Regions from separate parts of the Homo sapiens genome. Here all the other regions are reported to be linked to region 2. Evidence: microRNA targets listed by miRTarBase, many of them from high-throughput screens and not tested one by one. Region 2 holds a microRNA gene; each other region holds the end of a gene's coding sequence.

Evidence for each region. Region 2 holds the annotated microRNA hsa-miR-4743-3p (UUUCUGUCUUUUCUGGUCCAG, at 2,110-2,130, opposite strand). A microRNA usually pairs through its seed, bases 2 to 8, with sites in the 3' UTR of a target mRNA and lowers its output. Matches are read on the target gene's strand: a 7mer-m8 pairs with bases 2 to 8, a 7mer-A1 pairs with bases 2 to 7 and ends in A, and an 8mer does both.
Region 1: miRTarBase lists PPM1N as a target of hsa-miR-4743-3p. Seed matches in the 3' UTR shown: 7mer-A1 at 4,516-4,522.
Region 3: miRTarBase lists PPP1R14C as a target of hsa-miR-4743-3p. Seed matches in the 3' UTR shown: 7mer-A1 at 4,073-4,079 and 7mer-A1 at 3,401-3,407.
Region 4: the mRNA of LMX1A is a reported target of hsa-miR-4743-3p. Seed matches in the 3' UTR shown: 7mer-m8 at 1,228-1,234, 7mer-m8 at 1,610-1,616 and 7mer-A1 at 2,242-2,248.
Region 5: miRTarBase lists VKORC1L1 as a target of hsa-miR-4743-3p. The part of its 3' UTR that is shown has no 7-base or 8-base seed match.

What each region holds. Positions count from the first base shown.
Region 1 is chr19:45,501,661-45,506,763 of GRCh38, reverse strand. It overlaps PPM1N (protein phosphatase, Mg2+/Mn2+ dependent 1N (putative)), which reads right to left. Exons shown (of 5, transcript NM_001080401.2): 5 at 4,251-4,747. The coding sequence ends at 4,679. It overlaps LOC107985314 (a long non-coding RNA gene), which reads left to right. Exons shown (of 2, transcript XR_007067269.1): 1 at 1-79. Among named protein-coding and RNA genes, the nearest start is that of VASP, 3.3 kb to the left of the region's middle. RefSeq lists a silencer at 1-224.
Region 2 is chr18:48,667,675-48,672,777 of GRCh38, reverse strand. MIR4743 (microRNA 4743) reads right to left here and starts at 2,178; the gene lies at 2,110-2,178. CTIF (cap binding complex dependent translation initiation factor) reads right to left here. Exons shown (of 12, transcript NM_014772.3): 6 at 2,034-2,109.
Region 3 is chr6:150,248,439-150,253,541 of GRCh38, reverse strand. It overlaps PPP1R14C (protein phosphatase 1 regulatory inhibitor subunit 14C), which reads right to left. Exons shown (of 4, transcript NM_030949.3): 4 at 3,150-4,796. The coding sequence ends at 4,722. Among named protein-coding and RNA genes, the nearest start is that of PPP1R14C, 110 kb to the right of the region's middle.
Region 4 is chr1:165,199,632-165,204,734 of GRCh38, reverse strand. LMX1A (LIM homeobox transcription factor 1 alpha) reads left to right here. Exons shown (of 9, transcript NM_177398.4): 9 at 695-2,868. The coding sequence ends at 855. LMX1A-AS2 (LMX1A antisense RNA 2) reads right to left here and starts at 688. Exons shown (of 6, transcript XR_922234.2): 1 at 588-688.
Region 5 is chr7:65,953,413-65,958,515 of GRCh38, reverse strand. VKORC1L1 (vitamin K epoxide reductase complex subunit 1L1) reads right to left here. Exons shown (of 3, transcript NM_173517.6): 3 at 1-4,442. The coding sequence ends at 4,216. Among named protein-coding and RNA genes, the nearest start is that of GUSB, 26 kb to the left of the region's middle.

The DNA of each region.
Region 1 (5,103 bases), not on the chromosome of region 2:
GCCCACGCACGCCCCGCTCTGACTCAGTTTCGCCTGCGGAGGACAGCAGGATCATCCCAGCCCTCAGGAGGGCCCGGAGGTGAGGAGACCCTCCCGGGAGCCCCCGCCCCCACACGCCGGCTCCGGGCTGAGCCCAGACACCCTCTGAGGCTTCCGCAGCGTGTCTTGCCGGCCCCGCCCCGAGTGACGTCACTGATTTGGTCGCGCCCCTTGGGTAGAGCGCCACCTGGCCCGGGTGAGGCGCCCGAGCCCTGGGAAATCAGTTAGTTCCACATTTACACACGGGTAAACTGAGGCCTGGAGACAGGGAATGAATCTGGCCTATGGCCCTCTTGCCTGAGCCCCCAGAACCCGGAAAGCCACCAAGGTCTGAGTGTAAAACCAACAATTCTCAGGGCCAGCTGACTATGTGAGAGAATCCACTTTTCCAGCGTATGTCCAAGCCGAGTCCCATGTCCGGATGTTGATGTTGTCCTGACCTCCTTTACCTGGGGAGCACGTCATCCTTCCAGGCCAAGCTTTGACATTAATTCCCCTCCCCTTCTCCACCCCACTCTGGGAGACCTTGAACCCTGTTCCTCGGAGGTTATCATTGTTTCTCAGTGTGTTTCCTCAGGCTGAGTTGTCTGGGAGAATGGGTAGACTAAATTTCTTTTTTTCTTTTTTTTTTTTTGAGATGTAGTCTCTCGCTGTCACCCAGGCTGGAGGGCGCTGGCTCGATCCCCGCTTACTGCAACCTCCCCCTCCTGGGTTCAAGCAATTCTCCTGCCTCACCCTCCTAAAGTAGCTGGGATTACAGGCACGGGCCACCAAGCCCAACTAATTTTTGTATTTTTAGTAGAGATGGGATTTCACCATGTTGGCCAGGCTGGTCTCAAACTTATGACCTCAGGTGATCTGCCTGCCTCAGTCTCCCAAAGTGCTAGGATTACAGGCATGAGCCACTGCACCCAGTTGACTTAATCAATTTCTGGACCTCACTCACCCCAGCCAGGCCCGCCCGGCTCAGCAGCTCAACAAACTTACCTAGTTGAATGAGTTACCAGTTCAGTGTGACCTTGGGTAACTGTGTTCTCCTCTCTGGGTCTCAGCTTTCCCATCTGTGACATAGGAGGGGTGGCATTTCTGGGTGCCACCTACACTACAACAACAGTCAGCAAACATGGTTTTTTGTTTGTTTGTTTGTTGGAGACAGGGTCTTTGTTGCCCATGCCGGAGCGCAGTAGCATAACCAGGGCTCATTCGATCCTCTAACCTCAGCCCACTGAGTAGCTGGGACTGTAGGTCCACACCACCATGCCAGGCTAATTTTTTGTAGAGACAGGGTTTAGCTGTGTTGCCCAGGCTGGTCTCAAACTCCTGGGCTAAAGTGATCAGCCTGGCTCAGCCTCCCAAAGTGCTGGGATTGGAGGTGTGAGTCACCAGGCCCAGCCGGCAAACATTTTCTGTAAAAGTTCAAATAGGAAATATTTTAGATATGCTAGACATAGGGTCTGGTTTACACACTCTTCAGTTTTTCTTTTTTCTTACAAGGCTTAAAAACTGTAAAAAAAACTCTTCTTAGCTTAAGTGCTGTACAAAACAGGTAGCAAGACCCCTGTGTAAGAGAACGCTTGCATATGTACATAACGATCTTTACGGTAGCAGTGATGTGAGAGCAAGAAATTGGAAATAGCTTAAATGTTCATCAAGAGGACAGGGGAGGCTGGGCACAGTGGCTCACGCCTGTAATCCCAGCACTTTGGGAGGCCGAGGCGGGTGGATCACTTGAGGTCAGGAGTTCAAGACCAGCCTGGCCAACATGGTGAAACCCCGTTTCTACCAAAAACAAAAAATTAACCAGGCATGGTGGCACACACCTGTAATCCCAGCTACTTGGGTGGCTGAGGGGCTGAGGTGGGAGGATCACTTGAACCCCGGAGGCGGAGGTTGCAGTGAGCCAAGATCGTGACACTACACTCCAGCCTGGGAGACAGAGCAAGACTCCTCAAAAAAAATTAAACAAAACAAAACAAAAAAAAGATGAGGGCAGGGAATAGTGAAACCCTTGGACATCCTTTTCTGAAGCACGGAGTGAGCAGCAACTTAAGGAGGTGTGGACTGGGCAAGGTGTGTCATGCCTGTAATCCCAGTGCTTTGGTGCTTTGAGAAGCCAAGGCAGGAGGATCACTTGAGGTCAGGGAGTTTGAGACCAGCCTGGACAACATAGTGAGGCCCCATTTCTCTCTTTTTTTTTTTTTTTTTTTTGAGACAGAGTTTCATTCTTGTTTCCCAGGCTAGAGTTCAATGGCGCAATCTCGGCTCACTGCAACCTCCACCTCCTGGGTTCAAGCGATTCTCCTGCCTCAGCCTCCCAAGTAGCTGGGATTACAGGCATGCACCACCAAGCCCAGCTAATTTTTGCATTTTTTAGTAGAGATGGGGTTTCTCCATGTTGGTCAGGCTGGTCTCGAACTCCTGACCTCAGAAGATCTGCCCACCTGGGCCTCCCAAAGTGGTGGGATTACACGTGTGAGCCACTGCGCCTGGCCGAGACCCCATCTCTAAAAAAAAAAAAAAAATTAACTGGGTGTGGTATCATCCATCTGTGGTCCCAGCTACTTGGGAAGATGAGGTAGGAGGATTGCTTGAGCCCAGGAGTTCGAGGCTGTGGTGAGCGATGATTGCGCCATTATACTCCAGCTTGGGATACAGACTTAGACCTTGTCTCTTAAAAAAACGGGTGGCATGAAGTGTGTAAATGACGTGGGTGACATAGAATGAAAACATCCATTAAGTGGATAAAAAGTTGCCAGAGATACGAAGGGAATGAAAAAAATCAAGGAAACACCCAGAATACCATATATTAATACATGTAAAAAGTCCACTTTAAACTCATTGCAAGGGTTACCAGTGAGATAGAGAGTGTGGGGTTAATTTGGTGGTCACAGAGATCTTTTTTTTTTTTTGTAGAGACAAGGTTTTGCTATGTTGCCCATGCTGGTCTCGAATTCCTGGAATCAAGCTGCCTCGGCCTCCCAAAGTGCTGGGATTACAAGTGTGAGCCACCGCACTTGGGAGGTCTCAAGTCTGTCTTGAAAATGCCAAATTTGGCCGGACCTGGTGGCTGGCTCATGCCTGTAATCCCAACATTTTGGGAGGCCGAGTTGGGTGGATCACCTAAGGTCAGGAGTTCGAGACCAGCCTGACTAACATGGTGAAACCCTGTCTGTAGTAAATACAAAAAGTTAGCCTGGTGTGGTGGCACGTGCCTGTAATCCCAGCTACTTGGGAGGCTGAGGCAGGAGAATCACTTGAACCCAGGAGGCGGAGGTTGCAGTGAGCCGAGATTGCACCATTGCACTCCAGCCTGGGCAACAAGAGTGAAAACTCTGTCTCAAAAAAAAAAAAAAAAAGGGGGGAAATTTTATCCTGCTTCTAAGCCTTCATACTGATTGTTCCCTCTGCCTTAGAACACTCTTTGGGGTATTTGCGGAGCTGACTCTTCTCTGTCAGGTCTCTGCTCAACTGTCCCCTCCTCAGAGACCTTTCCTGATTCCCCTGTTTCAAAAGCCACCTCCCCCACCACGGAAAATTGAGTGGCTGAAGTGTGAGAGGGATAGAGAAAGACTTCATTGTATGCCATCTTGCACTCTTTGCATTTCAAACCAAGTGAATTTATTACCCATTCAAAACTACCTGAATTAAATAAATCAAAATTTTAAAAATTGGAAAAAGTAAAAAACCCGAAGTAGCTCCCCTAGTCATTTTCTCAACACATCCTCCTGTTTTATTTTCTTCGTGACACTTGTCAGTGTGCAAGATGACTTCATTTTTTTAGTATTAATTACAGACTGGGCGGGAGAATGGCATGAACCCGGGAGGCGGAGCTTGCAGTGAGCCGAGAGAGCACCCTTGCACTCCAGCCTGGGTGACAGAGCGAGACTCCGTCTCAAAAAAAAAAAAAAAAAAAAAAATTACAGATTGCATCTTGCTATGTTGCCCAGGCTGGTCTCGAACTCTTGGGCTCAAGTGATCCTCCCACCTCAGACTCCCCCAAGTGCTGAGATTACAGATGTGGACCACTGCGCCTGGCGAGATGACTTTATTTATTGATTCCCTTGTTTGCTGCGTCTCCTGACCAAGAGGTCAGCCCCACAGTGGCAAGGATCTTGGTGGGTCAGCCTGGTTCATGACTGTGAGGCTAAGACCTGGCACACAGCAGGTGCCCTGTAACGTATTTGCTAACAGACTAGGCAAAACATGTCTTCTTGTTTTTTACAAGAAAATGTATTTGGAATCACTTATGTAAATAAAGTTTAATAATCAAAACTCTACTTCCCCTCAAAAACAGATGAGTAATAAGAAGGAAAGAGGTTATTGGACTGGGTTATCTCTCAGAATCTGTTCGGCTCTGAATATTTCAAAAACATTTGGTTGGGTTTTTTTGTTTTTTTTTTTTTTTTTTTTTTTTTTCGATTTGGGCTTTTTTCTTTTTGGTCTGGATGTTGGTGGAATTTCCCCATTCGTAAGACTTTTCTGTGAGAGGGAAGTAAGAGAAGAAGAAATAAGCATTTTGGGTTCCTACATTGGCCTTCCTTCCTTCCGCTGGTACATGTAGTTGGGGAAAGGGTCGGTTTTCTTCTTTAGTTCTGTTGAGGCCCCAGAGAAGCAAAGGATCCCCAAAGGACAACAGCTGTCAGGCCTCCATGTCCAAGGCTGAGCCCAAATGCGTGGGGTTGGACTTCCCAGCCCCATCCTGCCCCTTCTGTAACACAAAATGTGGGAGAAGGTAATGAGAAATTCTGTCTTGTCTCCTGGCACCTCTTCCTTTTCCTTTGAGGGACCACCATATCCCATCTCACAATCCATTAAGGTTTGAATGGAGTGGACCCCAACCCCAAGTGCGACCCCAGCCTGGCCAATCAGACACAGTGACTGGTCAGCATGTGACCTGGTGTGGCCAATGAGAACCAGCCCCCAAAGACCACTGCTGCAACTCCGGGGAAATTGGCAAACTTTCTCCACTGGGGAGGACAGGCTGCTGGGGTGTAAGCCTGGAGCTGCAAGTCTCCGCTACCTTAGGAGGAGACCCTGAAAGGTAATGAAGCCAACTCGGAGAAA
Region 2 (5,103 bases):
TGGGTTGAGAACATGCTGGGGACACAGCTGGTAGGATCTTTATGCCCCTCTTCTTCTGGGGTGCAGAAGTGGAGGGCAGGTAGGCAATGGGCTTGAGGCCAACCTCCCTTTGTCACCCTCTTTCCTTCTTGCCTCCAGGTAGGGAGGGGAGGCCAGCCCTGATTTTTGTCTAAGAAAGTCTCTAGGAAGCCCGCTTATCTATGTACAGGCTCAAGACTCCCATAGGAGGGCTGGAGGTCCTCAGGCTAGAGGTGGGCTTTCCCTCCCATTTGGGGGCCTTCAGCTGGATGCACAATATCTCCTAGGTGAATCTGGAAGTAGGAGGATGTTTTTGGTGGTCACTATGCCTGCCCCTCTCCAGTGACGGCCATTCAGTGGCAGAGGCCAGGAGTCCTAAATATCCCACATTGCATTGGACACGTCCATACTATTAAGAGTTGTCCCCACCACATATGCTAATAGCTAGGCCAGCTGACCCTCAGGACCCAAGGCCAGACGAGTGAACCAGCCAGCCCTATTTATGAGGGGCTTTGAAGAACACTAGGAAAACTCAGATAAGTCATCCCATTGTGCTCTCACAGGACCGCAAATTCCTCAAACACCAAAAGTCTGTGTTTGGGGATCAAGAAGCCTGTCTACCTTGTCCTAAGGGTACCCATGTGAATTGTAGATACTCCAAGGAGCAGTCAAGCCAGGAGCATTATCAGCCAGGACTTTAAGTTTTCAACTCTTGCTGATAATCAGAATTTCCTACAATGCTTTAAAAATGCAGATTCTAGCTGGACACAGTGGCTTATTAAAAAAGCCCACAATGACCTTCGAGAGATAAAAACTACAATGTCTGAAATGAAAAATATACTGAATGGGATTAACAGTAGATTTGACACTGGAATAAAATATTAGTGAACTTGAAGAAATAGCAATAAAAGCTATCCAAAATGAAACACAGAGAGTAAAGAAAGACTTTAAAAAATCAGGCAGAGCTTTGGTGAGCCATGGGAAAAGATGAAGAAGCATAGAATACATACAATTGGAACCCCAGGGTTGAGGGAAAGTAGGAGGAATCGTGGCTGAAAATTTTCCAAATTTGATGAAACTATAAACCTACAGATCCAAGAAACTCAATAAATCCCAAGTGGGAGAAACATGAAGAAAACCACCACACCAAGGCACATCATAATCAAATAGATGAGGTCTTAACTGTATGCTCTATTGTCTCTCATTGATAGGCCCAAGGCATGAACAGAGAAGAAACAAAATGGCAAAGGCACCAGGAAGAGATGAATGGATATAGATAAAATAGCAGGAGAAGAATCAGGAGAGAAGGGAAGGGTGGCACAGTGGAGTGTGGTGGTAGGTCATGGTCACTGGCAGCGGCAGACTCAGTCACTGTGGAAGGTCCACTGCTTTTACACCCCTGCAGCAGGCCCAGTCACACTCCTGAGAGCAGCTAGACTCCTGCTGTTTCCACCAAAAGTCCAGCACTATAAGTATCTAGAGACCTGGATTCACTGAGTGAATCCTCTTTGTCCTGGAACCTGGCCTGATTCCAGGAAAGAGGCCCAATCAATAAAAAAAAGAGCAAGCATAGCAGACACCTGGAGGCCAGCAGGGCAAGTCCACTGTTCAAAAGCCTAAAGACAGCCCCAGCCACATTAGAATCTCTTCCAGGCCTGCCAGTCCCACCTGAACACACCACAGGACACTTCACCTGCAGAGAGGTTTCAGGCCAAGGGACAAAAACTTCCAAGTTCACTGAGTTGCCAGGGCATGGTCTATTTCATCTCTAGGGCACATCAGGCCTGCCAGCAGGGCCTGCAGCATCACCGAGTAGGCTGTCACACACACGATCACAATGGGACACCCTGGAGAATGGCAGGTAGCCAGCCCTGCCTATTACTACCATACAGGCGGTTACACTCCTTGCTGGAACAAGCAGCCAGAAGGAGTGCTTTGGTTAGGTCCTGTCCAGGAAGAGGATCAGGACTCCAGGGGTGGGGGTGGGCTGTTAGAGAGCCTGCCCCTGCACCTACCTGCCAGGCTGGAAGGACCTTCTCGATGTCATTCAGGTTGATGCCATCCCCATCTTCCAGCTTCCCTTTGCCACACCTGGACCAGAAAAGACAGAAAGGCATTGGAAAGATGGCTCATTCATGCCTCCTGTCCCATCCGGCCAGCAGGAGAGGAGGGACAGTCAGCAGATACCTGGTGCTGCCCACCCTCAAGCCCTGCAGGGGCTGTCCCACCTAGAGGAAACAGCCCTAGAGAAGCTGTGTGTGTGTGGGGGGGGGGTCCTCCCGTAATGCAACAGCCAACCTGGAGGGAGGTGGGAGAGGAACCAGAGTTCCCCTTGCTCCTTCCAGGCAGAGAAGCTAAGCTCCTTACTCATCACAACTCCTGTCAAAGCCCATCCACCTTGCCCCATTACACTGAACAGAAGATCAGTGGACAGAGACACCAAGCAACTTTCTCAAGGTCACATAGGCTGGCAGGGGCTAGCAGAAAACCCAATAGGGCTTCCTTCCTTTTTGGCTTGACTCTGGGTCAGTCCAGCAAGCCCACTCAGATAGTCTATGCTTTGTCTTCATGTCCTCTGTGAGTGGGCGTGCCCTCGGGCCAGAGAGGCTGGCCCCAACTCCCTGGCCAGAGGTCTGAATCTTTGGCATATTTAAGGGTGCAGATTCCGAAACCAGACTCCCAGGGTTTGAATCCCCGCTGCATCCCTTACCAACTGGGGACCCTGTACAAGTTGTTTAACCTCTCTGTACTCATTTCATCAAATGAGTTTCCTCATTTGTTAAATGAGGATAATAGTGTCTAACATCTTAAGGTGGCTGGAGGATTAAATTAATGAATGTATCTGGAGTGCTTAGATGCTTAGAACTGTGACAGCCCACAGTAAACGGTACATATATACACACATATATAGTCTAGCTTATATATATATATATATATATATATATATATATATATATATATATATAAATGTTTAGCTTGTTTGTTTATAAATGTGTGTGTGTATATTTCTTGTGTATGTATTATTATCTGTATTTACCATTAAATATATCTTAAACATACACACATATGTTTAATGGTAAATACTGGTAATAATAACAAAATTAAAATAAATAATGAAGTAAATATATTGCTACTACTATGACTACTTTCATTACCACTAATATTGTTGCTGTTGTTTAGGCAAAGAGGCAGGAGGGTGATTAATTAAGGACACAGATTCTGGAGCCAACCCAGCCTCATGCAAATTACTCAATTTCTGGGTCTCCTAGTTGCTTCATCTATTGAAGAGAAGATGGTAACAGTTCCTCCCTCTCTGGGTGGTGGCGAGTTTTAAATAAATGAGGCAAACACTTAGAACAGAGGCTGGAGCATGGCCGGTGCATAGTAAGTATTGTCAGTTACTATTATTACTGGTATTGACTGAGGAATGGTGAGAGATGTCCCATGAGTTGGGTCATTTTCCAGCTGCAGAGTTCATACGAATCTCACCTTTCAGAGTAACTAGTTCATTGTTTAAACATTTACCAAGCATCTCTTCTGTTTTGGGCCTTGTGAACCAAAAAAAAAATCAGTTTTGGTTCCTGCCCTCAGACAGTGGATGGCCCTTAGAACAAATCCTAAACTCCTCTAACAGGGCTGGGTGCCGGAGCACCACTGGGGGCAGCACGAGATCGGTGTCATAAAAGTCCTATGGCCAGAGGCGCCCTGGAACCCAGAGGAGGAGAAACTAGCTGCAAACACCAGCAAAGGCCTGGGTGGAAGAGAACAGGGGGCTAACCCAAGCCCCATTTGATGGCTCATTTCTCCATTCACCAAACACTTCTGTGCCCGGCTCTGGACAGGGTCTGGGACCCAGGTGTAAACAGTGCACACAACTGCCCCTCTCGGTGTCTGGCGGGATAATCACCCCCCACAGTAGAGCAGCAAGTGCCCCGCTGGGGACAAGGGATCGTTGCAGGAACCCCAAGGAGCAGCGTCTAGAACTGTCTTGGGCGAGGGGCAGGAGGAAGGTGAGAGGTGAGCTGGCCAAGCACAGGGAATTTGGGAGGATGTCCCAGGCTGACACGGCGCAGGCAAAGGCCTAGAGTTAGGAGCATGTGTGGTGCCAGTTTGCTGTGGCTAGAGCATGTTAGGGGTCAGGGTGCAAGGGGTAGGCAAGGGGCATGGTGGAGCTGGGGTGGGGAATGGTGTGCAAGGTATAACAGGCATGAAGGAAAAGAAAAAGTTTCCCCCGGCCCCCGGCTGTCCCCACAACTGTGATGTGCTGGGGCTACAGGTGAGCAGGTGGAGAAAGGCCCGGAACATCCAAACATCTCTTAACTCATCAATCTGCCTGGTGCAGACAGGCTGGCCTGTGAAAGCACCAACTGCGTGTAGTCTTCTGTGTTCTGCACCCGCCTGGGCCATAGGGGAGGAGGGCACTGGGGACTTGGCTTGACTAGAATGGCTGATACCACCTCCCCAGTGTCTCCTGTGGGTAAAACACACCTCAGGACTCTCTCGCATGCACTGAGCTCCAAGCACACGCTGGGCACCAGCCTAGCACACTCCAAACACAGCTTTCTGTTCTCGCCTCAGCGCCCCTGGGGGTGGGCAGGTGGAGGCCTGCAGGGAGGGCTGCTGTCCCACGAGGCCTGCCCTCGTCAGGGCTCAGATCTCCCCAGAGGCCTGCAGGTTTGGAGGGCTGAAGGTGGCTACAGACCAGCTGAGTCACTGCTGCCAACAGGGTTTCCAAGGCAACAGCCTTCTCTGATTTCTGTCCCTCCATGGAAACACAGGCTGCAGGGAGCCTTGGCAACTGAGTGGTACCTGCATCCCAGGAAGGCTGCAGTGGCTGGCGCATGGAGTGTGTCCCCACTACAGCAGGACTCTAAGGGGGTCACAGTTCCTGGTCTGGCCATGAGGTGGCCACAGACACTGCACTCAGACTCCCTGGGAACCTGGGAGTGACAGGCTTTGGCTAGTGAGCCAGATATCCATGGGAGACCCCAGGTGACTCTCAGCAAATCTGGAGGCTCCTGGTGAGAAAGTGAGACTGGCCGAGGAATTTAGGCCCACAGCTGGTGACACAGGTGTGGCTGGTTA
Region 3 (5,103 bases), not on the chromosome of region 2:
CACTCCATTTTCACAGGCAAATTACAAACACACAGTGGGTTGTACCCCAAGCCCTCAAGGAAATGAGACTAGTTCTGAGGAATAATTCTCCAGGACTATTTGGGTTAAAATTAATTCAAGCAAAGAGAAACCAGTAGGGGAAAATAGTGGTATGCTTGTGTCCAATTTGAAAATGGCTTTCAGAAAGTTCCAACTACCCGATAGGAGTTTTGTTTTCTTAGACAACAGACAAGGGTCCCTGCCACCCACAGCACTTCTCTCTTAGGCTATGCAGCAGCACTGAAGCGTGCTGACTCCTTGACTCTGAGCACCCAAAGACAAGAGTCAAAGGAAGTAGATAGGGGCCATAGAGGGACAGATATGACTCATGACTACACAGGCTCACTCTCAAAGTGGCTAGATTCCAGGAAAGGTTCCCAGGAAGCAGAGGGAAGCCCCAGAACCTTTCACTCAGAGGCAAAAATAGGGTGGCTGAGTAGGGATGGGGATGTGTCCAGTAGCTGTGGACCTGCCACTCTCTTGCTAAACAGCAGTCATGTCAAAAACAGCTTAGGTTTCCAAAAGCTGATTTTGCACAGCACACAATCTTTTATGGAGACTTTAGGTGATTGTCTTAGGCTGTTTGTGTTACTATAAAGAAGTACTTGAGGGCAGGCAATTTATACAGAAAAGAGGTTTATTTGGCTCGTGCTTCTGCAGACTGTATAGGAAGCATGGCACCAGCATCTTCTTTTGGTGAGGACCTCAGAAGTTTCCAATCACGGCAGAAGGAGAGCCGGCTTGTTACATGGCAAGAGAGGACGTAAGACAGAGAGGGGAGGAGGTGCCAGGCTCTTTTTAACAACCAGATCTAGAGGGAACTAAGAGTAAGTACTCACTCAATCCCAGGAGAATGGCACCAAGCCATTCATGAGGGGTCTGCCCCCATGACCCAAACACCTCTCACCTCCAACACTGGAGATCAAATTTCAAAATGGGATTTGGAGAGGACAAATATCCAAACTATGTCAGTGATAAATAAGTAAAAACCTGTTTAATTCCTGTGTTTCAGGAATTGAAAATCACCTTGTCCTGAGCTGCTCTTTCTCAGGAAACTGATGGCTGGATACTCCTTGCTCAGCTGCTAAGCCCAAGTCCAGGAGCTTTATGTTATGGGGAAAAGGCAAGAGGACTCTGGATAAGGAGGGCCAGCATCACAGGGCCTGGCTGCACTGCAGATGGGGAGCAGGGAGTCCCTCAGTTCCCAGGAGTGAGGAAGAGCCCCACAGGTGGCTGGGATCTCCTCCATCCACAAGGCCTCCTCCCCTACCCTGCCAGCTCAGGGACCTGGCTCACTTTAAATGTGGCTTCTGGGGTTCACTCTTGTGAGTGGGACTAAGAGTAATTCCCTAAGAGTGGCAAGAAAGTCTAATGGTTATGGGACTTTGGAGCCAAATAGGTTTGGGTTTGAATCTCAGTGTTGTAGCTGTGTGGACTTAGGTAAGCTGCTAAGCCTGAGTTTATTTTCTTATCTGTAAAATGAGAATGCCACCTGCCTCATAAGGTTAAGGTCAGGATTAAATGAGATAAAGCATGCACTTAGCACAGTGCTTTTATTATGATCGTTATAAATGGAAGCCACTCCATGAAGTTTACATTGAGATTTCCCAATGTTCAAGTGAGCGCGGCACTAGAAGTTGGATAATTTGGAGCCATTGCCCTAGTGAGAAGACTCTGTATGAGAAATAGTGAGTGTGCTAATACCACAGCTGCCACCTGCTGTAATAGCATAAACATGGAGAGCTGAGGTCAGGCTAATGCATCTGGCCATCCAATGGCACAAGAGTGACCCAATGGCCCAGCGATGCGCAAGCTGGAGAGCTTGAAAACAAACACCCCAGCTCTTGTCCTGGAGACGCTGATTTAACTGGTCAGAATTGACTGAGGCCTAGGCTTCCATTGTTTTTAAAGCTTCCCAGTGATTCAAATGTACACTCAGATCTAAGAACCACAACTCTAGCTGGGAAGAAAACAGTGGAGTTTTCTTGAATCTTTTGTCATTTTCATTCAACTGGCAAACACACAATCTCTTTGATGGGCCAAGCCTAGGACCAGATGCTTGGTGAAGTCCAGATTCCCAGCCTCGAGGATCCCAGATTCTAACAGAAGACACCAACAAATGGATAGGCAATAATGATACTGTGGATGCGTCTATGACAGAGTATAGGCTGGAGCTGAGGGGGAACACACCTAGGAGGGGGTCTAACCCAGCTCTCTGGATACAGCCTGTTGGCAGAGGGGGCGTTCTGGGCCAAGGCAACAGATTTTACAAAGCACCAGAGAAGAAAATACATAGAACACGCCAGAAACTCCAAGGAATTTGGCAGAACTGGGCATGAGCACAAGGCCAAAAGATGAGGTGGGAGAGGCAGAGACAACATTTCTCATAAGGCATGCAGAGGGTTCGGGTTTCAAGCAGGGGGTGGAGTCGTCAGACTATTCTAGCAACTGGGTGGAGGATGGATCAGAGGGAGACAAGCCTGGACATGGAGAATCTGTTCCCAAGGTGGTGGCAGCAATCCAGGAAAGTTGGACATGGGATAGGTTTGAGAAGTATTCACAGAGGACAAGCTGGGTGACTGGGAGCATACTGGGGAGTCAAGGAAGAGGCCCAAACTTCTTGCTGAAGCACTCACGGGGATCAGGGCAGGAGGGAAGGTGGGGAGGAAGTGTGTGGTGGGAGCAGAGGCCTTTGGAGGAAAAGTCAATTCTTACTTCATCTGAGACCATCACATGGGCTGGTCAATTAAGCCTAACAGAAATCCTGCCCATTCTGTATTTTTCCGACTTCCATGGTGCAAGGCATTCTAACAAGTGGAATAGTTTACTAATTTGAAATGTTTTTGAGGGTTCTTGTAAGATGGCAAAGAGGAGTTTTAATTAAATGAAAGGAGCATGGCCTAGGACAGTGCCAGGCTGAGCACACAGAGCTCGTCTTCTTTCTCAGCCCAAGAATGTGGCCCAGCTCCTTTGCTTTCACCACCTGATCTGAAGATGCCTGAGGAGAGGGCCAGGATTACATGCCTAGAAATCCTTGAAAATGAAATGAAACGAGGTGAGGTGCTTGGTCCTCACCTCTGCAGAGAAACTGACACAGCAAAACCATCATGTTAACGTGTTGTGCAAGCCACACATGTCAACAGGCTTGTAAGCAGCTCCATTTATTTGAGTAAATATCTTGTAAATAAATCATTGGTAAACAATACAAAATTAAATACATTTTCAAAAGCTTGCCAGTATACGCAAAATTCACAAACATAGTTTTTTTAAAAAATAAAATATGTTCAGAGCACCCTTGATATAAAATGCCTGACCCCCATCCTTGGACAAGGCCACCTGAAGACATCTTATGGTAGGTGGGTTTCTGTGGGAGTCAGCGGGGGCCTCCTGGAGGGAAGGGTTTCTACTCTCACCTATTACCCATCCCACATTCCATCTGAATTTTGATCCTTCTCCAAAGAGCTGGTAACTGAGAGGGCTAGAGCACGCCACCAGGCCTAGCTCCAAGCACGGGGATCAGGGTGCACAATTAGGGCCAGGAGCACCCAGAGTCCTCAACACAAGCCATTGAGAGAAGCCAGAAATGCAATCTCCACACTTCCAAACCAGCAACTCAGCTCCTAGAGCAACTGTCTTGAGAGAATGTGAGGCTTTCTCACCTTGACACTTAACACTCGGTTTACTCCCACTGGTCTGATACTACCCAGGCACAGAAGCTACCAGAACCTATTTCTAAGGAAGAAGACACTCGATCTGCTAACTTTCTTTTGATCTGCTTTCCTGGAGAGAGAATAAACACAGTACTCGGTGGAAAGCAGACAATTCACTGCTACACAGTGCTTCCTTTTTCCAATGCAAAATACCACTGAGATAGTGTGGATATTTCTCTAGAAATCAAGTTAGTTCTTCAAATTAAGGGTTCATACAACTTTAAAAGACTACAAAATGAGACAATAAGCACATGACCTGGCAAAGCATCCCAACCAATGAAATAATAGAAATTCCATAAATTAAGCCCTTGACCAACTTAACATTTCTGTGGTGTAGTGCATTAAAATAACGGATACACTGAATTCTTTCACTTTGGTGCATAAAGTGAACGTTGAAGTCAGCAGCACTCAGTGAAGAATGCCTAGTGGCCTCTTGAAAACACATGTGCTGGGACCTCCAGTTAAAGGACAACCACAAGTTTATTCCATCCATGTGAAATAAAACTCACATCAACATTTTAACTTAGTTGTGTGTAGATATATACAAGTGTGAGAAATTTGACAGCTGAGTCAAATGTACAACTTAAGAAAAAAAATATTACCAAACTACTTGTAAGAAAACTATCTTCCCTGTATCATAAGGTACTGAACATCTGAGTCCTTGCAGGAAACGCAGCCTGGCGTGGCCCTTCCTTGAGTGTCCACCTCCTTTGATAATCCTTGGTTAGGCTGTGGCTAGAGTCATGATATCTTTGCTATTAAAATATTACATTAACAAAAACCTTTAAAACCAAAAAAAGAACGCTCTTGAATAAATGTCTAATAGACCCCCCCACCTTCACACCAAAAAAGAAAAAAAAAAAAACAAAAACGTTGTTCATAAGGACACCTATTCTTTCACAAAAGTCTTCATGAAGTACAAATCCCAGGACTCTTTCTTCGTCTCTGGGAGAGTTTCACCCTGTTCCAGAATCATACACTCTTCTTCTGCGGAGGGCTCAGTTTCCTCATGCCTCTTATCCGAGAAAGCAGCTCTTTGATAAATTCCTAAAAGAGATCAGAAGAAGTTAATATGAGGGTCACTATTAAAATTCTGTGTTTAAAAATCTGCTTAAAGTAATTGATGTCAACTGCAGTTAACCTTAGTTGATGAATTTGGTTGAATGTGTTAACCCCCACTGGTATAATACAGGATTTTTAAAAACAAATCAAGAATACTAAAACTTCACACCACAATGCCTTCTTATTGTTCTACTTTCTTTACGGGGGAAACCAGGCTACTTTCACTACTGACATGACCTACTTGGCCCCTGAGGCATTTGTGTTGAGATCAGAGCTATTTAACATTACCATG
Region 4 (5,103 bases), not on the chromosome of region 2:
GAGTCCTTTCATAAAATGAATATTTAAAGCCCCATGACAAGTTGTATAAACTCCAGTTTTCACCTCTCCTATTTACTTGAAGCAGAGGCAGAACATTCTTTGCCTCCAGATCCTGGTTGCAGTGATTTCTCAGCTGTTCCAATGTGTGCCCTACTGGCTTCCCTATCAAAGGTGTAAATTAGTTGAAGGTAGGCACCTAACCTTCCTTTTCTTTGCATTACAAATTTGGGGTAACAGCTGATAGTAGACCCTTGGTGTTTGAAAGAACAAATGTTATCACAGGAGTTTTCATTAGCTTCACTCAAAGAGCTTTCTTTTTGTTTTGTTTTTTTGTTTGTTGGTTTTACCATCCCTCCTTCAAGCATCATTTTTCAGGCCCAAGTCCTATAGGAGCTCTGCCCTGTCTCTCCAGCCTCTGGTGACATGTCCTGCCTACTCCCCACACTCCCTGTCTAGACATTGTGACATTTGCTTATGCTGCACTCAATTTAGCACTTTGTCATATCCTGGTTTAGATTGTTTTCACTTGTTGCACTTTGGACTTGAGCCCCCTAAAGAGAATATAGACTTTTTGTAGAAAGTTTCACCTGGAGCCTGTGCTCAGGCAACACTTGTTGAATTCAGCTGAATATCCTAGCACTGAAATGAGTCACTTCTTCAAGACCCTCATGCCAGTGTTTCATCTCCATTTCAGGTGCCGAGCCCCTTTTCCATGACCTGGATAGCGACGACACCTCCCTCAGTAACCTGGGTGATTGTTTCCTAGCAACCTCAGAAGCTGGGCCTCTGCAGTCCAGAGTGGGAAACCCCATTGACCATCTGTACTCCATGCAGAATTCTTACTTCACATCTTGAGTCTTCCCCTAGAGTTCTGTGACTAGGCTCCCATATGGAACAACCATATTCTTTGAGGGGTCACTGGCTTTAGGACAGGGAGGCCAGGGAAGAGGTGGGTTGGGGAGGGAGTTTTGTTGGGGATGCTGTTGTATAATGATATGGTGTAGCTCAGCATTTCCAAAGACTGAATACATTATGGATTGCATAGTTTAATGTTTCTAATAAGAGTCTTAGCATTAGATATGAAGACGTGTTTATCATTAAGGACAGAGACTTTTAATATAGACATTCTCATGCAAACTAGATACTTAGGGACTCCTAACAACTTCCCACCATGTCGGGGAAGCTCTTGTCAAGAGGTGCATATGTCTATCCATCTACACACCAATAGACAGAAGGACAGATAGATAGATGTGTGTGTGTGAGTGTGTAACCTTTCGTATTTTACCCTCAAAGTTTATTCCTAATTATAACAGACACCAACTGTACAGCAAAAGTAACTTTATTTTCAGTGTGAACTATATTTAAGGAAATGCTTGATGCACTTAAGTTATAAAATGAGATAATTTACTTTTATAAACTTTATTTTTAGCTTGACAAGACTTGTCAGCAGGGCAGAGAGGGCTGCTCCACCTAGCCCCATAGCTTTGAGTGCTGGGGTTCATTCTGTTTTCAGAGTGTCTTTCAGATCTGGAAAGAAATTCTGTGTGGCTGATGGTGTTCTCTCTTGCATTCTTGCTCTCTTTGGGGTTGAATCACTGGGCAGGGGTGGGACAGAATAATCTCTGATCATGTTCTGAGAAAATGTAAAGCCCAGACTCCTGGGCTTTCTTTTAAATTCTGACAAGTGGTTGTTGGGCAGTGCTAGGATGATTGGTTCAGCTCTTGAGCTTCAGCATCTGCAAATGTGGATGAGGCTAATAGTATGTACCTACCTCACTGGGAAACACCAAGGCTTAATTCATTCCCAGGACACATGAGCAGGGCTGAGACTAATATCTGATATTTGTTTAAGATACAACCAGGCCACTCACTTGGCAAAGGAGGGTACATAGGGTTGCAGAGCAGGAGGGCTCCTGAACTCCAGAGGGCAGTTCTGCCTGCTGAAGTCCCTCTGCAAAGCCTGTGCTGAAGGAGACACCAGCTCAGAGCAGTTCAGAGGGATCCCAGAGTCCCAGAGTGGGGAGGAGGTGAAGGCTGAGGGGATAGAGGAGGGCCTGGTGGTGTTCTAGAGCAGGGTTGGGCAAACTCCTGCTTGCGGGCCTGCTTTCTATGGCTTGCCAGCAAAGAATGGTTTTTACTTTTTTTTTGAGGTCATTAAAAAAAAGGAGAAGAAGAATATATAACAGGCTGTCTGTGGCCTGGAAAGCCTGAAATATTTGCTATCTGTATTGTCTGGCCCTTACAGAAAAAGTTTGGGGCCCCTTGTTTTAGAGGGTCTGTTTCTAAAGAACCTCATGGCGCTCATAGAGGCAGAAGGTTCCAGTGGAAACCCTTGGCTCTTCCTTCCAACTCACTCCTCTGATCCTCGGCACAGAAGACCCAGCAGCCATTGTACATGGGGACAGTTCCACACCCTGGTCTCCAGTTGCGGTGCTAGGATGGTATTGTTCTGTGCTAGGAAGTCTCCTGGGAACCCAGAATGAGTTGGTGGGGAAGACAGCGGGTCACTGTGGACCCATCCAGGAGGGGCCAGGATAGGCTTGGCCTCATTTCTGGGGACATCATTGGAGACTTGAACACAGAGACACGTCCCTATCACTCTGGCAAGGCCAGAGGGAACATGTCCCCTTATGGTAGAGTCTATGTTGTGTGATTTTTGTGCTCTTGTTTATAATTTATGCAAACCACCAAGAAACCCAAACCAGTCTGATGAGTGAAAATTATGCAGATGCTGTATGGCCCCACAGGTTTCTGTGGTAAAGACCAGTTGGAGAATGTAGGAGATACTATGTGAGTGAAAATGAATAGAGATCCTTATTCCACTCCTTAATGGCATACCAAGATGAAATTAAAATCTCTTACAAATGAGCTGTTGTTTATTCAGGGGTGGGATGGTTGGTGGGGAACCAGGGGGATGTGGGAGTTTTGTCTACAAAGCCATGGGGATGAGCTTATGGCAAAGCTTTGAATGAATGGAAAGGATGACTACAGCAAAACATAAGGAGAAAAGGGTCTTCAACTTCTTGCCAAGATGGACGAAGACTCCAGTCTTTACAAAAAAAACCCCACAGAAGGAGGCAGTGGGAGCTTTCCATCACCACCGTCAAGTTCCCTCAGGGCAGAGCAGTTTGTGATACGTGATGAGGGAACATTTGCTTGGAAATCAGAACAGAGTGATGGGGCAGGAGAAGGATTTCTCATGCAGGCCTGAAGGCAGATGCCTAGCCAGGATGGGAGAGCCAGGCAGCAGATCGTGGCTCCCTGACAGAGTCTCCCAAAGTTCTCAACAATTTTAAATGTGATGTATGGTGGGCAATTAGGACTATGGAGAAAAGAAGTCAGGAAACAGTATGGAGATAAGACCAGGAGACATACTCACAGGGTGGTATTGTTTTTTGTCTGTTTTCTCCCCCACTTGCATTTGTTCAAGGCCTGCAACCTCTACCTCTGGCTCACTCACCACATGTTAGAAGCTGGCTCTTCCTCTTGCTGAGGGCCTGGAAGGAGAGAGATATGTATTATAAGGCCAGGCTGACAGGAGGAGCCCACTGAGGAGGCCTTATCTCAGACTGGCCTCCACTGGGCTGGCCTTAGTTCCTAACTCCAGCTTCCTGGGAGAGCCTAGGCACAACCCCTTTACCCCTCTTATTTGCCTAGTTGGCAACTACCTAGTCTTCAGAATCAGCATACTTGGCCTTCTCAAGCCTACAAGGCTGGGTTAGGTGCCTATATGGACTACTTGGACTAATGCTCCCTGCTGCAACAAATAAACCCCCAAATATTATAACAGCTCAAACACAACAGAAATTTATATTTTTACTCACATAAAAGACCTGGGAAGGAGTTTGGGTTAGAAGCACACCTCTCTTCCATGCACAATGAAGGCTCTGCTCCTGGCTTCCAGGCTTTCACTGGGGATTGGTTGTCTCCATTCTTCTTTTCCCCTTCCCACTGGAAGTGGATGAGTCTAGATTGCAATCCCAGCTCCTGAACTTACTAGCTGTGTGGTCTTGGGCAGTTTCCTTCACTCTGCTGAGTTGATTCCTCAGGGATGGTACTTGTGGCTACCTCAGGGGGGTTGTGAGCACAGGTGAGATAATATGTGTGAAGCACTTAGCCCTGCACTGGGAGTATGGTAAGGGCTAGATGAGTGTTAGCTGCTGCACCGCAGGCCAGACCTGCTCTTGGAGTTTGGTCATTGATGAAAGGCTGCTGGGAGTCTCAGACCCTATCTGAGGAAAAAGAAGAACACATCCTGGTTCACCTGAGCTCAGAAGGCATCACTTCTCACCATCACCTCCTCAAATCTCAGCGTGTGTCTTACAGAGCCTGAGCCAGAATTGTGGGGGAGTGGTTGCTGTTTTGTTTTAAAGCATGCAGATAAAATTCCAATTATGATGACACATTCAGATCTCTGACCCCCAAGGAGGAGTCAGGTCATAGGAAATTCCTCCAGCCACCTATTGTCACCTGCTTTTCATGACCTGCATGAGGGGGAAGGCCTTAGGGCTAGGCTCAGAGTGGAGAGCCTGGATCCACAGGTTGAGCCTTCACGCCTCAAAGGGCCTGTGCCTAGGCTGTCTCTGAAGAAAACGAGTTGACCTAAAATGAATAAAAAATGGGAAGAAAATGGAGTTAATTTGTCAGTTCCAAACTCAAAGACAAAATAAATTTTAACTGAATTGCAAATGAAATCAAAGTTTGTCTATCTATCTCTTTCACTCTCTCTTTTTCTTTCTCCCTCTAAATCAAACTAGGATGAAACCTATTAATAATATGATTTCACTAGAATAAAACTGTACCCTCAAGAATTAAAACTGAATCATAACTTGACACCCTGTTTCCCTGAATCCCTTTATTTGGCATGTTTCAACATTATGTTCAGTGACAAGGTAAGAGGTATCTTTAGGGCTCAAAAGAAGGCCTTGAGATTTTTTATGCTAAAAGTATATTCCTTGATGAGGAGATTACCTGGCTTTGAAGTTCCCTAGATGTATAACCTTAACAAGATGCTGAGCCTTCATTTTTTCATCTATAAAATGAAGCCAATGACACTTGCATGTCTTACAAGTTGGTTGTTGTGTATAAAAAAAAAAAAATTAC
Region 5 (5,103 bases), not on the chromosome of region 2:
AAAAAAGTTATGTGCAACAAATAAACATTCTTACATATTTACATTTGGTTTTATTTACCAGTTAGCAAAACAGTGCCTTAAATCTCTGATAAAGAGTATTTCTATCTAGATTAAAGGGGAAACCTGCCCAGTGAACTCCATTTTAAATGACTGTTTACTCTGGAGCTTAAAGCACTAGTAAGAAATATTTCTGATGGAACATACTACACAGATCATATACCTAATAAATACTTAGGCCATGCTTAATACAGTTTTATAACAAAATATTTCACCTTTTCTGGGCGAATTTGTAGTAAAAAATGTTTAACCAAGTAGCCGGGGCTCCCACCCTTGCCCTTTTTGTTTGATGGAAGGGTAGTTCTCACAATTAGAAACCATAAGTGCTGCCTGAGGTGTCTGAAATGTTTCACCCATGACTGTGTGTTAGAGAAAAAGACACGAGGACAGAAATTGCATATTAGGTCATTAGGTCTTTTTCCCCAAATAGGTTACCAGAAATCACAGTGGGTCTCCTTGTTGGCATCTAATAATGATCTTCCAAGACAAGATCTCCTGTCACTCTTGGTACCAATCTAAGTTGTGAAGTAATTGCTGAAGATAACTCTGTACTTTTGCAAATAGTCTTTTCCAAAACTAAATGAAAAACAAAAGTCAACAAATAGTTTTTATTTTTATTTTTTTATTTGAGACAGAGTTTCACTCATTGCCCAGGCTGGAGTGCAATGGCGCAACTGTGGCTCACTGCAACCTCCACCTACTGGGTTCAAGCAATTCTCCTGCCTCAGCCTCTGGAGGAGCTGGCATTACAGGTGCCGCCACCATGCCCAGCTAATTTTTGTATTTTTAGTAAAGACAGGGTTCCACTATGTCGGTCAGGCTGATCTCGAACTTCTGACCTCAGGTGATCCAACCGCCTCGGCCTCCCAAAGTGCTGGGATTACAGGTGTGAGCCACCATGCCCAGCCAGCAAACAGTTTTAATTTCACTGTAGTCTTGGTCCTCTTTGAATGCAGTCTCTCTCTTTTTTTTTTGGGGGGGGGACAGTCTCGCTCTGTTGGCCAGGCTGGAGTGCAGTGGCATGATCTTGACTCACTGCAACCTCTGTCTCCCGGGCTCAAGCAATTCTCCTCCCTCAGCCTCCCGAGTAGCTGGGATTACAGGGGTGTGCCACTGCGCCTGGCTAATTTTTGTATTTTTAGTAGAGATGGGGTTTCACTATGCTGGCCAGGCTGGTCTTGAACTCCTGACCTTAGGTAATCCACCCGCCTCGGCCTCCCAAAGTGCTGGGATTATAGGCGTGAGCCACCGTGCCCGGCCGAATGTAGTTTCTTTGAATGAAAATAGTCAATGCTTTGAACATCATTTGAAAGTAATGAATTTAAGGAGAGGACACATGTATGAAGGAACAGTGATTCTGGGCACACAGCTAGTTAAACCTGAGTTATTTCACCGGAAATTTACCTTTAGTGAGAGCAACTAGCTGTAATGCAAAACAAATGAAATCCTCCAAATCACCTAGATTCCCTAGAATTTATCATCTAACCCCAATTCCTGTTATTTCTTCAAATGATATTTGTGAACATCAAGTCAATAAATGGCTTCATTTGGAACAAATCACTTAAAAAAGATGAGGCATGGAATTACTGCTAAAAACAAATGTTTCCCCTCATCTGTCCTTTAACACTGGTGGCTAGTAATGCTGCAGTGTTCAAATATTCAGTCTAAAACAGGCAAAACAATCTTCTAATTTTGTAACACTGGTGATTCCCCCCCTCTTCTGGGCAGAATCGGAGGTATAGAAAGGAATCTGAATTCTCCAGGGCAAAAAACACCCAATTAACACCCACCAGGATTCTGTTACTGAGACACTGGCATTACAATGCTGTTATGACAGGCAGTACGTGTTCCTCTCTCAGTGAGAAAAAGGGTATTAATTCGACTGGGCCATAGGAATGTGGCAAAAGTTTTTATACAACTGAAACAGTGGTTTCCCCGAGGCTTAGAAAAGCAAAGGAAAAACTGGAAGGGTCTGGCTGACCATTTTGCCATGTTTTCTCAGGTAAGAGTTGAAGACATTTGCAAGAATGCAACATCAAGACAAGCTTTAACTATACTCTGTTGATTGATACAAAATAGGATGAAAAACCATTGGATATTGGGACACGAGGAACTTGTTTAGCACAACCGATGTCATGTATACCACAGTTTTAACCATTAGGCCATTTCCACTGTAGCTTAGAAAAAAGAACCAGAGGACTGCCTTGGTAGAGCTGGATGCGCTGCTACAAGATGGCCTCACTGTACAGCCCTCAAACGTGAGGACTTCTTTCTCCATAGACACCAGATGGCCAATCAGTACTTTCTAGAGTTCTTTAACTACTTCAGAATGCAAGAACAGTACATACATACTCCAACAGCCATTGAAAGATTCACATTCATGGGAAAACACAAGTCTTGATGAAATCTTGACTTAAGCTCTCTTTTAAGAAACTGGTTGAAACTGGTGAAAAGTTCATTATGATTTGGACTTGATACCTGCCTCGGGCCAGAAGACCTACGTTGCATCAATTCTGAGTCAGTTGGAAGCTACGGAATTGTTGCTGACTCTACACATTTGAGTTTACAGAGCAGAGCCCGTCCCCTCCCTTCAAAGAGAAGGCAAATAAAGCACTCAAGAGATACTGGTCTCATTGACTATTTTCAACATAAAATGATTAATCAGGTTGGAAGCAAAAACATTACTGCTGCTTCTCAACCAGAGGATTAAGTGATCACACAGGACCCTTCTGCAGAGTGCAGGTTTTCTACCTGACGGTGAAGAAAGGAGGGAAGGACACTTCTTCTGCCCAAGGTCAACACACAAAATATTTGGTTTGAGATTTAAGACAGAAGGCACTTTTAACATTCTGATATCAGATGTTAACCATACAAACATCCTGTCACAATTTCATTTGGGTGTACTCAAATCCCCTTACAAAAGTCTTCTTACTGCATGTGTGTCATTATGAGAGCAGTGGCGACATGAGCAGATTTAGCCTTGAGATGTGTCTACCTGTTGCTATTCTCCCGATGAAGCAAACTGGGCAGCATGTCAGCCCTGAAGGTTACAAATCCAGTATTTGACTGCAAAACAATTAAATTAGACATCTGAGTGGTTAGTGCAGAAAGAAACAATTAGCAAGAACACTGGCTCCCACTCCGGAGCGATGGGGCTTGGACTGGTCTTTTCCATCATAATACTCTTTGCTTGACTGGCACCAACGTTAAGGAAAAATATCTGCATGAAAATTCAACTAGTGGAAGAAACTTTACCTAAAAATGCCATGTTTATATTTCCAGCTTTTCTCCAAAGAAAAATACCCATTTTCCCATCCTTAGTGTCTGAAGGCCTTGGACTTGAAGGTCTGGCCACATGACTCATTCTGTAAGGTTAACAACTGGCCCAGTTTTATGACTGAACACAAACTGGACTTGAACGTTCCAATTCAATTTTTTCCTTTCAGAAGAGGGAGATGAAAGGGAACCGACCACCCTATTATTATTTTTTTTGCCCTATTATTTGCTGCAACCACGGCTGCCAGTACTTTTCACAAGATGCTGTGTATAGGCTATTTTCACTATCTCCTCAGTCAACGCTGAGCTGACAGTTCTTCAGTGCTACACTCCAACTAAACTGTACAGTAAGTTCTGCAGAAATGGATCTAATATTTCTACCTTTATTTACAAATATCACAAATGGATTCTAGTTGAATCTACATGTTTAAATCCATCGGCTAAAAACATATTACATATTGTAAACATGGCAATATTTAATACAGTATCTATTCTAGAATATTTTCATGTCATGATCACATTTGTTATACCTGAAATTGAATTTATACACATTAAAGAATTACTAGCAATGGTTGCTCACTTTACAATTGAGGGCAGGGGGCTAGGGCTACATTTTATCATTTCAGAAACACTTCAAAGTAAAGTTAAAGCTTGTCTTTGATTGGCTCGGCGTATCCTTTTTGTATCCATATTTAAAATGAAGACTGACACAGAAAATAGCGAGGGCCCCTTCTAATTTACCGGATTTTTAAAAATCAGTTTGAGATTCTTAGGGAAAGTGTCTGTTGTGAATAATAATAATAATAATAATAATAAAAACCTGCTGCAAAATAAACTGAATGGAAAGGGGCTTGAGACTGTTAGGGTGGAGTCTGTCGGGCGTCAGTCCTGCTTGGGTTGCAGCTGCCGCTTCCAGGCCTCGTTCAAGTAAACTAGTCGTTTGTAGTTGATAATGAGAAGAAGGAAGTTCAGCACGTACGTGACGATGCAGATGATGCAGAACTCCTTCAGCACAAAGTACAGAATGTAGGCCAGGTACAGGGACCCCACGACCGACATGATGGAGGACGTCATGAGGATCAAAGCCGCCACAGCGCTTGCTGTCATGCCTGTAAGAGAAGAGACGCAGGCTCAGTCAGGCCTTGGTGCTGGAGAGAGGCTTTCTGAGTGACAAGGAATAACACTGTGTGACTTGCTGCAGTGTTTGAATACTGATCTTCCTGCCAACTCTGAAAATTGAGAACAGAAATACTGCTCTGTTTTGTTAAAATTATACAGGTTGACTCTGCAGTTGATAATGCCAGGTTTTGGGGTTTTTGAGATGGAGTCTCACTCTACCGCCCAGGCTGGAGTGCAGTGGCACAATCTCAACTCATGCAACCTCTACCTCCTGAGTTTAAGCAATTCTCCTGCCTCAGCCTCCCAAGTAGCCAGGATTACAGGCACGTGCCACCACGCCTGGCTGATTTTTTGTTGGCCAGGCTGGTCTCCAACTCCTAACCTCAGGTGATCCTCCTGCCTCAGCCTCCCAAAGTGCCGGGATTACAGGCATAAGCCACCATACCCAGCCAAATGCCAGTTTTATAGCTGTGATGTTTTTGATTTCTCAATCTTTCAGGTAAAACATTACTAATTTCACAAACTAGCCTAGTTGAAAATATGCACACAAAGAAAACATGCAATCTCACAATCACATTAAGCAATGAAGCTGACTTGTAACATCAACAGCCCCAAGACACCAAATGAATAACGGGACATGAGGACCACAAC